Linked DNA regions of Homo sapiens. The protein of the gene in region 2 purifies or fractionates together with the protein of the main gene of each other region. This does not show direct contact. Each region holds a gene or a part of one and is shown on either strand. Other genes may lie near its edges. The genes, in order: UFSP2, BTN3A3 and CKAP5.

Region 1 (3,654 bases), on a different chromosome or scaffold from region 2:
TCTGAGCGTCCAGGACTTTTGAGGAAATCTTAAGAATTAAAAAAATGCATATACGATACAGTACGTACCCTAGATGAGTTAGGGGCCCACTTGTGGTCTTGGTCATTAGAGTGTACTCAGGGCAGCAGATCATCTGCAAAAGCTGTGGGCCAACCAGCTTCCATAGAAAGTTCCTCACAAAAAGAATAGTTCCTTAGAAGAACCTGGACACACAGAAGGTATTGAATGAGTACTGATTGCTTTTTGACAATAAAATAGGTTCATTATATCTGTATTACAAGGTCGTAAGAAAAATATATACTTTACATATTTATCATGTAATATTTGATATGTACATATAACATATGCAAATTGTAAAGCACAGTGGGGAAATGAATACCAGGGAGCTCCTCCCTAATTTAAGAAGCAAAACTTTACCAGTCTGTGCTCTTTCCCTACCCACTCCTCTGCCTCCTCGACACAGTTCCAGGAGGAACTATTATGGGTTTTGTGTTCATCATTTCCTTCCTTTTTAAAAAGTAGTTTCAGCGTATATGTTACATATCAATCTCAGCAATGTCGCTTTTAGTATTGCATAGTTCTGAGTTTTATAAATATGGTATCATTCTGTACGTAGTCTCTGCAGCTTGCTTTTTCACTCAATATTACATATCAAACATCTCTGGTATTTTGTCTAACCATAGTTAATTATCTTTATGATTTTTTCCAAGTTTTTTTGCTGTTTAGACAATGAACATTCCTATACCTCTCGATACATATGTGCAACAGTTGTTAACATTTTGCTATATCTGCTTCATTTCTCCCTCTTTTTTCCCCCTCTGAACCATTTCAAGGAAAATTATAGATATATTATTTACCCTTAAATACTTTGGCACAAATCTCTCAACAATATAGATGTGCATTCATGAAATAAACTCGGTTTGGTTATGACTCATTATTTTTTATTCCCCTCTGGATTCCATTTGCTAATATTTTACGATTTTTGCATCTATGTTCGTGAATGATACTGGCTTATAATTTTCTTCTCTCATACTGTTCTTATTTTGTTTTTTTATTAGTGATATACTGGTTTACTAAATTAGTTAGGTTAATGTTCCTTTTTTAGTTTTTTAGAGAAGTTTATATAAGAGTGGTATGATCTTTCCTTGGTCATTTGGTAAAACTTGCCTGTAAAACAATTTTGGCGTAGCATTTTCTTTGTGAGAAGATTTTTAGTAACCAATTTAGTTTTGGTAACAGCTTTAGGACTTTTTGATTTTTATAAGTTATTTACCTAGGTTTTAATATATCTTGTAGTCATAATATTTTCTTTTTCATTCTTCATATCATTTTTATGCCTTGTGTCTTTTAAAAAAAAAAAAACTTTTGGCTTTGTTGGCCCCCTCTATTATAACTTCTGTATTTGATTTTATTAATTTTTGCTCTTTACTTTCTTTTTTTTTGCTCTTTCTTTGATTTATTGTCTTTCTTCTAACTTCTTAAGTTGGACATGTTAGCTTATTGCTAATATTTCTTTCTTTCTTTTTTTTTTTTTTTGAGATGGAGTCTTGCTCTGTTGCCCAGGCTGGAGTGCAGTGGCACAATCTTGGCTCACTGCAACCTCCGCCTCCTGGGTTCCAGCGATTATCCTCCCTCAGCCTCCCAAGTAGCTGGGATTACAGGAGGGTGCTACCACGCCTAGCTCATTTTTGTATTTTTTAGTAGAGATGGGGTTTCACCGTATTGGCCAGGCTGGTCTCAAACTCCTGACCTCGTGATCTGCCTGCCTCAGCCTCCCAAAGTGCTGGGATTACAGGCGTGAGCCACTGCGCCCGGCCTAATCTTTCTTTTTTTTGAGATGGAGTCTTGCTCGGTTGCCCAGGCTAGAGTGCAGTGGCATGATCTCAGCTCACTGCAACCTCTGCCTCCCTGGTTCAGGCAATTCTCCTGCCTCAGCCTCCCCAGTAGCTAGGATTACTGGCAATAGCCATACGCCTGGCTAATTTTTGTATTTTTAGTAGAGACAGGGTTTCATCATGCTGGCCAGGCTGGTCTCGAACTCCTGACTTTAGGTGATCTACCCACTCGGCCTCCCAAAGTGCTGGGATTACAGGCATGAGCCACCGTGCCTGGACAGCTTTCTTATTTTCTAATGTAAGCTTTTAAATTTCAAGCAAAGCACTGCTTTTAGTGTATCTTATAGGTTTAATTTGAAGGATTTTAGTTTTGTTCACTTCTAAGTATTTTTATATTTTTCTATTATGGTTTTTCTTTTGTCCATGTATTATTTAGAAGTGTTTGTTAATGTCCAAATATGTCAGAATTTATTTTTCTTTTTTGCTTTTTTTTTCTTCTTGTTTTAACTGGTTTCTGACTCTTGCCTCCTGGTCAGAAAGAATTCTAAGTGAAACTAACTCTGAAATTTATTGAAACTTGTATTTGTTCCCTAAAAAATAATAACATATTTGATGGCTTAAAACTACAAAAATGTATTGTCTCAGTTCTGGAGTTCTGAAAGTAGTATCACTGGGCTGACATCACAATGTCAGCAGGACCACCTTCCCTCCATAGGCTCTTGGGGAGAATCCATTCCTTAATCTGATGGCTGCCAGCATCCTTTGGTTTGTGGCCCCATCATTCCGATCTCTGCCTCCTCAGTCACATTACCTTCTCCTCCTATGCCCCTCTCTTTTAAGAATATATGTGATTGCATTTAGGGCACACTAGGATCCAGGATAACCTCCCCATCTTAAGATCCTTAATCACGTCTATGAATACCTTTGCTTTCCTTTTTTCTTTTACTTTTTGGCACAGAGGGTGCATTCACAAGTTCCAGGGATTAGGACATACATACCTTTTGGGAGCCACTTTTCAGCCTGTCACAATGGTCAAGTTATAAATTTTTCTATCTGTGCTTGGGCAGAATATATATTCTCTAATTGTTGGGTGAGGGTTGGTTCTATCTTGTCCCTATCTCCTCTCACTTAATTTTTTAAAAATATCATCAGTTTGGAGCCAGGCATGGTGGTGTGCAACTGTAATCCCAGCTACTCAGGAGGCTGAGGCAGGAGGATCACTTGAGCCTAGAAGTTCAAGACCAACCTGAGCAACATAGTGTGACCCAATCTCAAAAAAATAAAAACAAAAACCCAGTTCTTTAATAAAAAAAGACATATACATTCTTAGCACTATAAGTAAGAATTTATATGATATTAGTAATTTATTTATCTTTATTTTTTGACCCTTAACTTAGCGTCATCAAATAACATACTTGGGCTGTAATCATAGCAGGTTTATAAATTTAGACACATTCTTCCTGTGTCCCATGATATGGACCCTTCATTTGTTTGTTCATTCCTTTATTCCTTCCTTCATTCATTCAGCATTTATTCAGCAGCATTTATATTAACCGTGTGCCAGGCGTGTTGTAGAAGCTTGGGCCCAAAAATGGATAAGACACAGTGTATGTACTCACTGAGCTCACATATTAGTGTAAGTAGGCAGATATTTTTTAAATGATAAGTAATGTATCATTTAAAGTATATCAAGTCATGATATACTTTGAAAAATAAAAACATAAAGAGGACAGAGATGACAGGTGAGGCAGGGGGTGGGGTAGTGAGAGAATGAGTGGGCCGTTTGTAGACTGGATGGTCAAGGAAGACCTTTGACATC
Region 2 (3,566 bases):
AATAAATTTGTGTTGCTTTAAGTTCATGAATTTCTGAAGCCAGGCGCGGTGGCTCATACCTGTAATCCCAGCACTTTGGGAGGCCGAGGTGGGTGGATCACAAGGTCAGTAGATCGAGACCATCCTGGACAACATGGTGAAACCTCGTCTGCACTGAAAACACAAAAAATTAGCCAGGCGTGGTGGCACGCACCTGTAGTCCCAGCTACTCGGAAGGCTGAGGCAGGAGAATCACTTCAACCTGGGAGGTGGAGGTTGCAGTGAGCTGAGATCGTGCCACTGTACTCCAGCCTGGGAGTACAGTGGCACAATCCAATCTCAAAAAAAAAAAAATGTCTATACATTTCTGGTAATTCAGATGGCAACAACAGAAAATGCATCCAATAAGGGTCTTGTGAAAATGCTGCAGTGAGGTAAACTGAGACTGTGGTGAGTACAGTGGGTGTGCAGACTACTGTGCTGAGTAGACACCACAGTCTAGAAAAAGCCAAGCTGAGGAGTAAGCATTATTAACACATTTATTGAACAACTAGAACTTGACAACCACTTGCCAAGTAGAGGGGATACAGTGGTGAGCAATAATAGTGATGATAATGAGGAGCAGTTTTCCCTAGCAGGCAGCAGTTGAAAGGAATATGGGTTTAACATCCACCAATGACCAGGAGTGGACAGACCTATTTCCAGGAGACTGAGTCCATAGTGGGATTAAAAACATCCCTGTAATTCTTTTAGCTTCCTTGATCCAAATTTCCTATATCACAGAGAATCTCTAGGGTATTTGCTCTGCCTGGAAACCTTGATTGAAGGAAGGCTGGCTCTGGCTGCACAATCACTTATCACATTTGTTGGGTGGGAACATATCTGTGCCCCATGATTTATCAAGTGTGGCCTCTAGTCTCTTTCCAAGTCACATGTCATGTTGGTACTATGAGGTTATTCTCTCAACCAAGACACTCTGCAGAGCTAATCCAAGGAGTGCTGGGTCTAAGTCTCTGATATCAGCTGGGAAAGAGTCAATAGGGATGTCAACTCCACAAGCACTTAAAATGATCTCTACCCTGCAGCTGTCCTGGGAAGGAAACCTCAGGGCTACATGTGGGCTCTTCCTGTGGGAAAAAAAATCAGGCTGGAAAAGAACAGGCAATTAGCCAGGGACTAAGGCTGAACATCTCCCAACTGCACAAATTACTGTATGAGTTATGTAAGTTACTTCATGTTGCCCTGCCTCAGCTTCCATACTTGCAAAATATGACTACCCGACAGGGTGTTGTGAGGATTAAAGGAGTGACATCCACCAAAGCTTATAACACAGCACTAAGAACATTTTAAATTCTCTGTTAATGTTAGTTATTGCTGTTTAGATCCCAGCTCTGCTGTTCACTTGTCATGTCTACTTTGTAAAGTTAATTCACCTTTCTGCACCCCAGTTTCCTTATCTGTATAAGGGGACAATAAGGTGGTACGAAACTCAAAACAACTGTCATATGGAATAATGGAATGAATATCAGTAAAGTGCTTCAGTGCGTGCCTGTAGCTTATGGTTCTGATTGGTTGTTGCAGAAGGGGAGACCTCAGCTCCAGGGTGGGCAGGGAGAAGCAGAGATGTTACTTCAGCCTGAGGCTCCCCACTTTCATTAGCTAAGCCCGGGGTCAGTGGTGTCTCCAGGGAATGATCAGGCACTAGGTCAGGATCGGGGGAACTCTCTACTTCTTTTGGTATTGGGCAAATGGTCAGGGCAGTGGGCTCCAAGGTCAAAATTCTGAAAACAGGATATAGAGGCTCAGAGAAAGAGGCGTGCGGAAAGGTGTAGATATGAGATCCATCTGTGGCATTATAGAACGAGATCTCTCCAGTCTCATAGTCCAGGAAGATCCCCACTTTCCTAGGAGGCTCAGGAAGTTTCAGGTTGGTTCTGGGCTCAGTGAGAGCCCGATACTTATTCCCATCAGTCAGGCCCATAGTCCAGTATCCGTTCTCCGGTGTCATTTTGACCCAACCTTTTTTCCTCTCCACGTTCTTACTACATACCCCAATATGCCACTCTTTTCTGTCCCCCACTTCCACCTCCCAGTAATGTCTCCCTGATGTGAAGTTTTCACAGCCAAGGACACAGTAACGCCATTCAAATCTCTCAGGGTTGTCTGGCAGATCCCGCGGCTCTTCAGCACGCTGCACACTCCTCTGGTCCTCAGAAACAAGGAGGATGGCGTTTGCCGTGTCTGGATCCAGAATCACATCCGCTGCAGAGAGTTTGAGGAGGTGTCCATGGGGTCAGCCATTTTTCCTGGATTTCAGAGCCTCAGCATGCAAGGCCTGGACCATGCTAAGGAGGTCCTTCCAGAACCTGGCGTCCCTAGCCTGCTCTAAATATGACTCTCTCATCAATGTCATGGGAGAAAGCTCAAGGGGTCTTGTGTCCAGAGGGGAAATGAAAGTAAGGTCAGTATCTGCCTAACCCAATACCCTGATGCTGCCTCAGGAAGCAATAAGGATCCTCTTGCTACATTTTTCTTGTTTCCCTCCCCACATTGACTCTGCCCCCTAATGCCTTATACTCAGAGGTTAATTTTCAATCTTCACTCGACCGCTTATGAACTAAATGAGCTCCCCTTTTCTGCAGTCTATTTTTCCATACATCCAATTTATTTAACAAGGTGGAGCCTCATCTGAAGCATTTTGTCACCTGAAAAATGGGGATAAAAATATGACTCTCTAGCGTAGTATAGGGGAATCATGTTATTTACTCAGCCCACAGCAGGGCATGAAGGAAGCTCCTGATGTTCTAATAGCTGCAAGGCCGTCTCTATGCTGGGCTCTATGAGGGGCCCCAGATTCACTCTCCAGCCTTCAGCTTTTTCCACCCTCTTCTGGGTCCTAGGAATCTGTACTCTAAGGATAGTGCCACTGGGCTCCCTTGTCTTCTGGTTTGCTGTTGGGTTTGGCCAATGGGAGGCCCTGATAGAAGATTGGAAGGAGAAAGAAAGGAGAGACACACTGTTTATTCTCCTGCTTCCTCCCTGCCAGCAGCAGCTGATGCTACTCTAACAAGGCCTGACGACTCTTCTCAGGGAGCCCTCTCTTTTGAGCTACTTTTCTCTGGGTTCCAGTAACTGCCTCCCCTTCCTAGACCTCCCAGGCTAGGAGTGAAGACAGCTCCCCACTGTTGGGAACCATGGGGGCACTGCACTTTTCCTTATTGCTTACCCTTATCCCTCCTTTCCGCAAACCTTTTTCAACCAACCAGTTTGAACTTGTCATCTCTTTCTTACTTGGTTTTTGACCAGTGGATATTTATTATTACTTCAGTCTTCACCTCACCCCCACAAAACACAGATTGCAATTTTCATTTAAAAATGTGGAGGCGAAAGCTCGGAAGCATTAAATCATTTGAGGTGACACAGGCAGTAGGGGGCATGAGAAGCCTGGGAAGTGCAAAGTTCTTTGGGCAGGCATCACCTCCTCTCCTTGGCATTTGCATCCTCACTCTCCCTGCAGTATCACTCAGTGTGTGTCTCCTTCCCCTCAGCTCCACCCTTTATGTGTCTTCCTTCCCAGGAAGGTCTGA
Region 3 (3,654 bases), on a different chromosome or scaffold from region 2:
TCAAAACATAGTAATGCATGGGAGAATCATTGCTACTTAGGAAATGCCTCACTTAATCATTATTTTCCTTATCGACTAGGTTGGAGAACCAAAGGATGTCATTCGTAAAGATGTTCGTGCCATCCTGAACCGGATGTGCCTTGTCTACCCAGCTAGCAAGATGTTTCCCTTTATCATGGAAGGAACCAAATCCAAAAACTCTAAGCAGAGAGCAGGTGAAGCAAACAGTTTAAACTGAGATGTGAATCTCTGCAGCAGTAGCCTATAGAAGAAATAGTTTATAGATGAACAAATAAATTTCTCCAGTGCCTATGTAGTTGATTCCAACCTCCTGATTTAGACTGTGAGAGTGATGAGTTGCACACTGGTGGAGCCATGGTATCAGGTGATACAGGCACCACTCAGTATCACCCTGGTGACAAAATCAAGTGCACAGGGGCCATCTGACTCACAGGCATCTCTTCCTTTCAGGAGCACTTGCTGAAATACCATTTTTTCACTGATAAAAGGCAGTAAACAAAAAATCCTAGGCAGAGCCAGAGTAAGGTTTTAGTCCTTCATATATGCCAAGGGAAATTTCTCTAGTAAGGATAAGTCTCTGTCCCAAATATGTGTTGTCTCATTAATCTAGCCTTTCTCCCCCATCAGAGTGCCTGGAAGAGCTGGGATGTCTGGTTGAGTCCTATGGCATGAATGTTTGCCAACCAACCCCAGGAAAAGCCTTAAAGGAAATAGCTGTTCACATAGGAGACCGTGACAATGCTGTACGCAATGCTGCACTCAACACCATTGTAACGGTGTACAATGTACATGGGGATCAGGTGTTCAAACTGATTGGAAATGTGAGTGACTTCTCTGAACACTGTCAGCATGTCGTGAAAAGAATTGCAAGATCTCCTAGGTGTTAGGTTTCCTGTCCTCTCAACTGTAGCTAAGTTTTTACTACTTTTTAGTCAACTCAACCTATCAATGTGTCCTAGAATCCAGATAGACCCTTGAGGTGTCTCTGATTAGGCTGTTTTAATGGAAATCAAGTTTTCTTTTCTGAGCATTCTATTCATAGCAAATTTGCTTTAGAAATGAGTGCTATTTTTGAATCAAGAAATCTGAGCTAGTCCCGGGTTTAAATTCTGCCTGGCAGTCTGCTCTGTAATTTTTACTGCATCGAGTTTTTGGTTAAAAAGTGCTTATTTGTGTATAGTGTGGATGCTAGTATCTGTCAGATCACATCTTGCGCTACAGCCGTGAGCCAGTTTTTCACTCACATTAGGTTCTGCCTCTGACCTCTTATTTCGTTTGAGTGAGTCTGGACCTCCGTCTTCAGTTACCTCATAGTGTCACCATGTATTTACACAGGGCTTAAATATGTTTACTTATATTTTCTAATTAAATTCTCACTACTACCCAGTGAAGAATATAAAGCAGTTGGGAATTTTACAGATGACCAAAAATGAAGTTTCTTGCCCATAGTCACACAGCTAGATAGTGGTGACAAAACAAAAAATGAGGAAGCTTCATTTAATTTTTGACCTTTTTATTTGTAGTTACTAATTGGCTTTCTTTTTTTTATCGTTTCTTTTTTTTTTTTTTTTTGAGACAGGGTCTTGCTCTGTCACCTAGGTTGGAGTGCAGTGGTGTGATCATGGTTCACCGCAGCCTCGACCTCCCAGGCTCAAGTGATCCTCTGACTTCAGCCTCCTGAGTAGCAAGGACTACAGGCGCGTGCCACCACACCCAGCTTATTTTTATACTTTATGTATAGATGGGGTTTCACCATGTTGCCCAAGCTGGTGTCAAACTCCTGGGCTCAAGTGATCCTCCTGCTTTGGCCTCCCAAAGTGCTGGGATTACATGCATGAGCCACTGTGCCCAGCCCCTCTCCTTCTTTCATATCTCCTCTTCCTATAGCAGCTAGGCAGGTATTAATAGTAGTTGATTTTGAAATGTGGTGCTTTGAAAGTAAACATGTCCTAACATAGAAGGTTCTATTTGTTTTGATATGAAAATAGATATTATTGTGTTATCCAGTTAGGTTTCTAAATTTGGCCTCTTTACAGCTTTCTGAAAAGGATATGAGCATGCTCGAGGAGAGGATTAAGCGGTCAGCAAAGAGACCCTCTGCTGCACCAATAAAACAGGTGGAAGAGAAACCTCAGCGTGCACAGAACATAAGCTCCAATGCCAACATGTTACGCAAGGGACCAGCTGAGGACATGTCTTCCAAACTCAAGTATGTAGATAGAGATACTTGTCTGAGAGCATCTCCATGGCCTTTGCCTTGTGTGCTCACAGCCTGTCCTGTAACATAATCTTGAGTTCTTGTAGCCATTATCATGCATGACAGAGTGTCTGGGTAAATGTATTGTAACCAAATGTTTGATTCTTCAGTCTTCATTGTCTTTGTCTTTGTCTCAAAACCACTTCTAAATGGTCTTGTGCCTTCTTTCACTGCTTTTCCGTGGACAGAATTATGTATCGCACTTATAGGATGTAAGTACTGCCTGCTAATTTCTCATTAGCAGGGCTCTTATATCTTTCTAACTTCTGACTTGGATTCATCCCCTCTGGAGGGTGACTAGCTTAGAGTTTATAATCAGGGTAGAGGGTGTCCATAAGTACCCCATGAATCAAGTCTTCCACAAAAGTTCAATGTCATGTGGCTAAAATACTGATTCACTTTCTTCTTTGTGTTATACTTGGTTGTGCTTAGTTTCCTATTCTTGAGATAAGGCTAATTAAAATACATGCAACCCAAAATTGGCTTAGGGACTCAAAATACTGCCTCCTAAGCAAGACAGCTCTATTTTGGGTTGTGTCATGAGTATAATTTTAACGAACTTGAATTTGGAAACTTTGAATCCCTATTTCTTGGATGTAAAGCTGGCCCTGACCTGTCAAGAGTGAATATTCTAAAAAGGGGTGACTGGTGGTCTCACAAAATATAAAATGTGCTGAACACGGCATGGAATGGTACTTATGATTAGCAAAATTAAAGCACTGGTTAATTTGGTGGAAAAGAACCAGCCAGTCTAAATTTTTCTTATATATTTGCTCATAAGTAGTGAACTTTGAGTCAATACAAATATATTTTATTGTTTTCTGCCCCTTCAGGAATAGAAATACAAGGTTTGTTGGCTTTAGTGAACTAGAACAAATACTTATAACTTGGCAGGTAATGTAAGTACAAATTAAAGTTATCTGCCCTCTTAGGATATTCATGAACCAATGTTGTTACCTATTAAAGGCACTTGCTTAGACTCAGGGACTTAAATCATTCAGGGGGGCTGAAACCAGAAGTTGAACATCTGTCCTGAAGCTTTGGGGCAACTGACAGTGCTACTCTTGCCCTTTGGTTAAGAAGTCTCTTTTAGTTCAGGAGCCTCCTTTTGCTTCCCTTAGCCAAGCCCGAAGCATGAGTGGGCATCCTGAGGCAGCCCAGATGGTCCGCCGAGAATTCCAGCTGGATCTAGATGAGATTGAGAATGACAATGGTACAGTCCGATGTGAAATGCCAGAACTTGTTCAGCACAAACTGGATGACATTTTTGAGCCAGTCCTTATTCCTGAACCCAAGTGAGTTAAACTCTTTCATTTAAATATGAGCAGTTCATGATGATCAGACGGCCTACGTGAAATGTGCCCTTTGTAATGTGC

Evidence for each region.
Region 1: the proteins of BTN3A3 (region 2) and UFSP2 purify together in Homo sapiens (affinity purification with mass spectrometry; one large-scale study listed by BioGRID and IntAct). This does not show direct contact.
Region 3: the proteins of BTN3A3 (region 2) and CKAP5 purify together in Homo sapiens (affinity purification with mass spectrometry; one large-scale study listed by BioGRID and IntAct). This does not show direct contact.

Annotation. Positions count from the first base shown.
Region 1 is NC_000004.12:185,408,828-185,412,481, reverse strand, and holds part of UFSP2 (ufm1-specific protease 2), read left to right. Parts: intron 1-68; exon of another isoform or gene 69-3,654. UniProt on the Homo sapiens protein: Thiol-dependent isopeptidase that specifically cleaves UFM1, a ubiquitin-like modifier protein, from conjugated proteins, such as CD274/PD-L1, CYB5R3, DDRGK1, MRE11, RPL26/uL24, TRIP4 and RPL26/uL24.
Region 2 is NC_000006.12:26,450,350-26,453,915, reverse strand, and holds the end of BTN3A3 (butyrophilin subfamily 3 member A3 isoform a precursor), read right to left. Parts: intron 2,242-3,566; coding exon 1,505-2,241; 3' UTR 501-1,504; downstream 1-500. UniProt on the Homo sapiens protein: Plays a role in T-cell responses in the adaptive immune response.
Region 3 is NC_000011.10:46,759,188-46,762,841, reverse strand, and holds part of CKAP5 (cytoskeleton-associated protein 5), read left to right. Parts: intron 1-79; coding exon 80-215; intron 216-342; exon of another isoform or gene 343-453; intron 454-648; coding exon 649-842; intron 843-2,057; coding exon 2,058-2,230; intron 2,231-3,399; coding exon 3,400-3,573; intron 3,574-3,654. UniProt on the Homo sapiens protein: Binds to the plus end of microtubules and regulates microtubule dynamics and microtubule organization. Acts as a processive microtubule polymerase. Promotes cytoplasmic microtubule nucleation and elongation. Plays a major role in organizing spindle poles.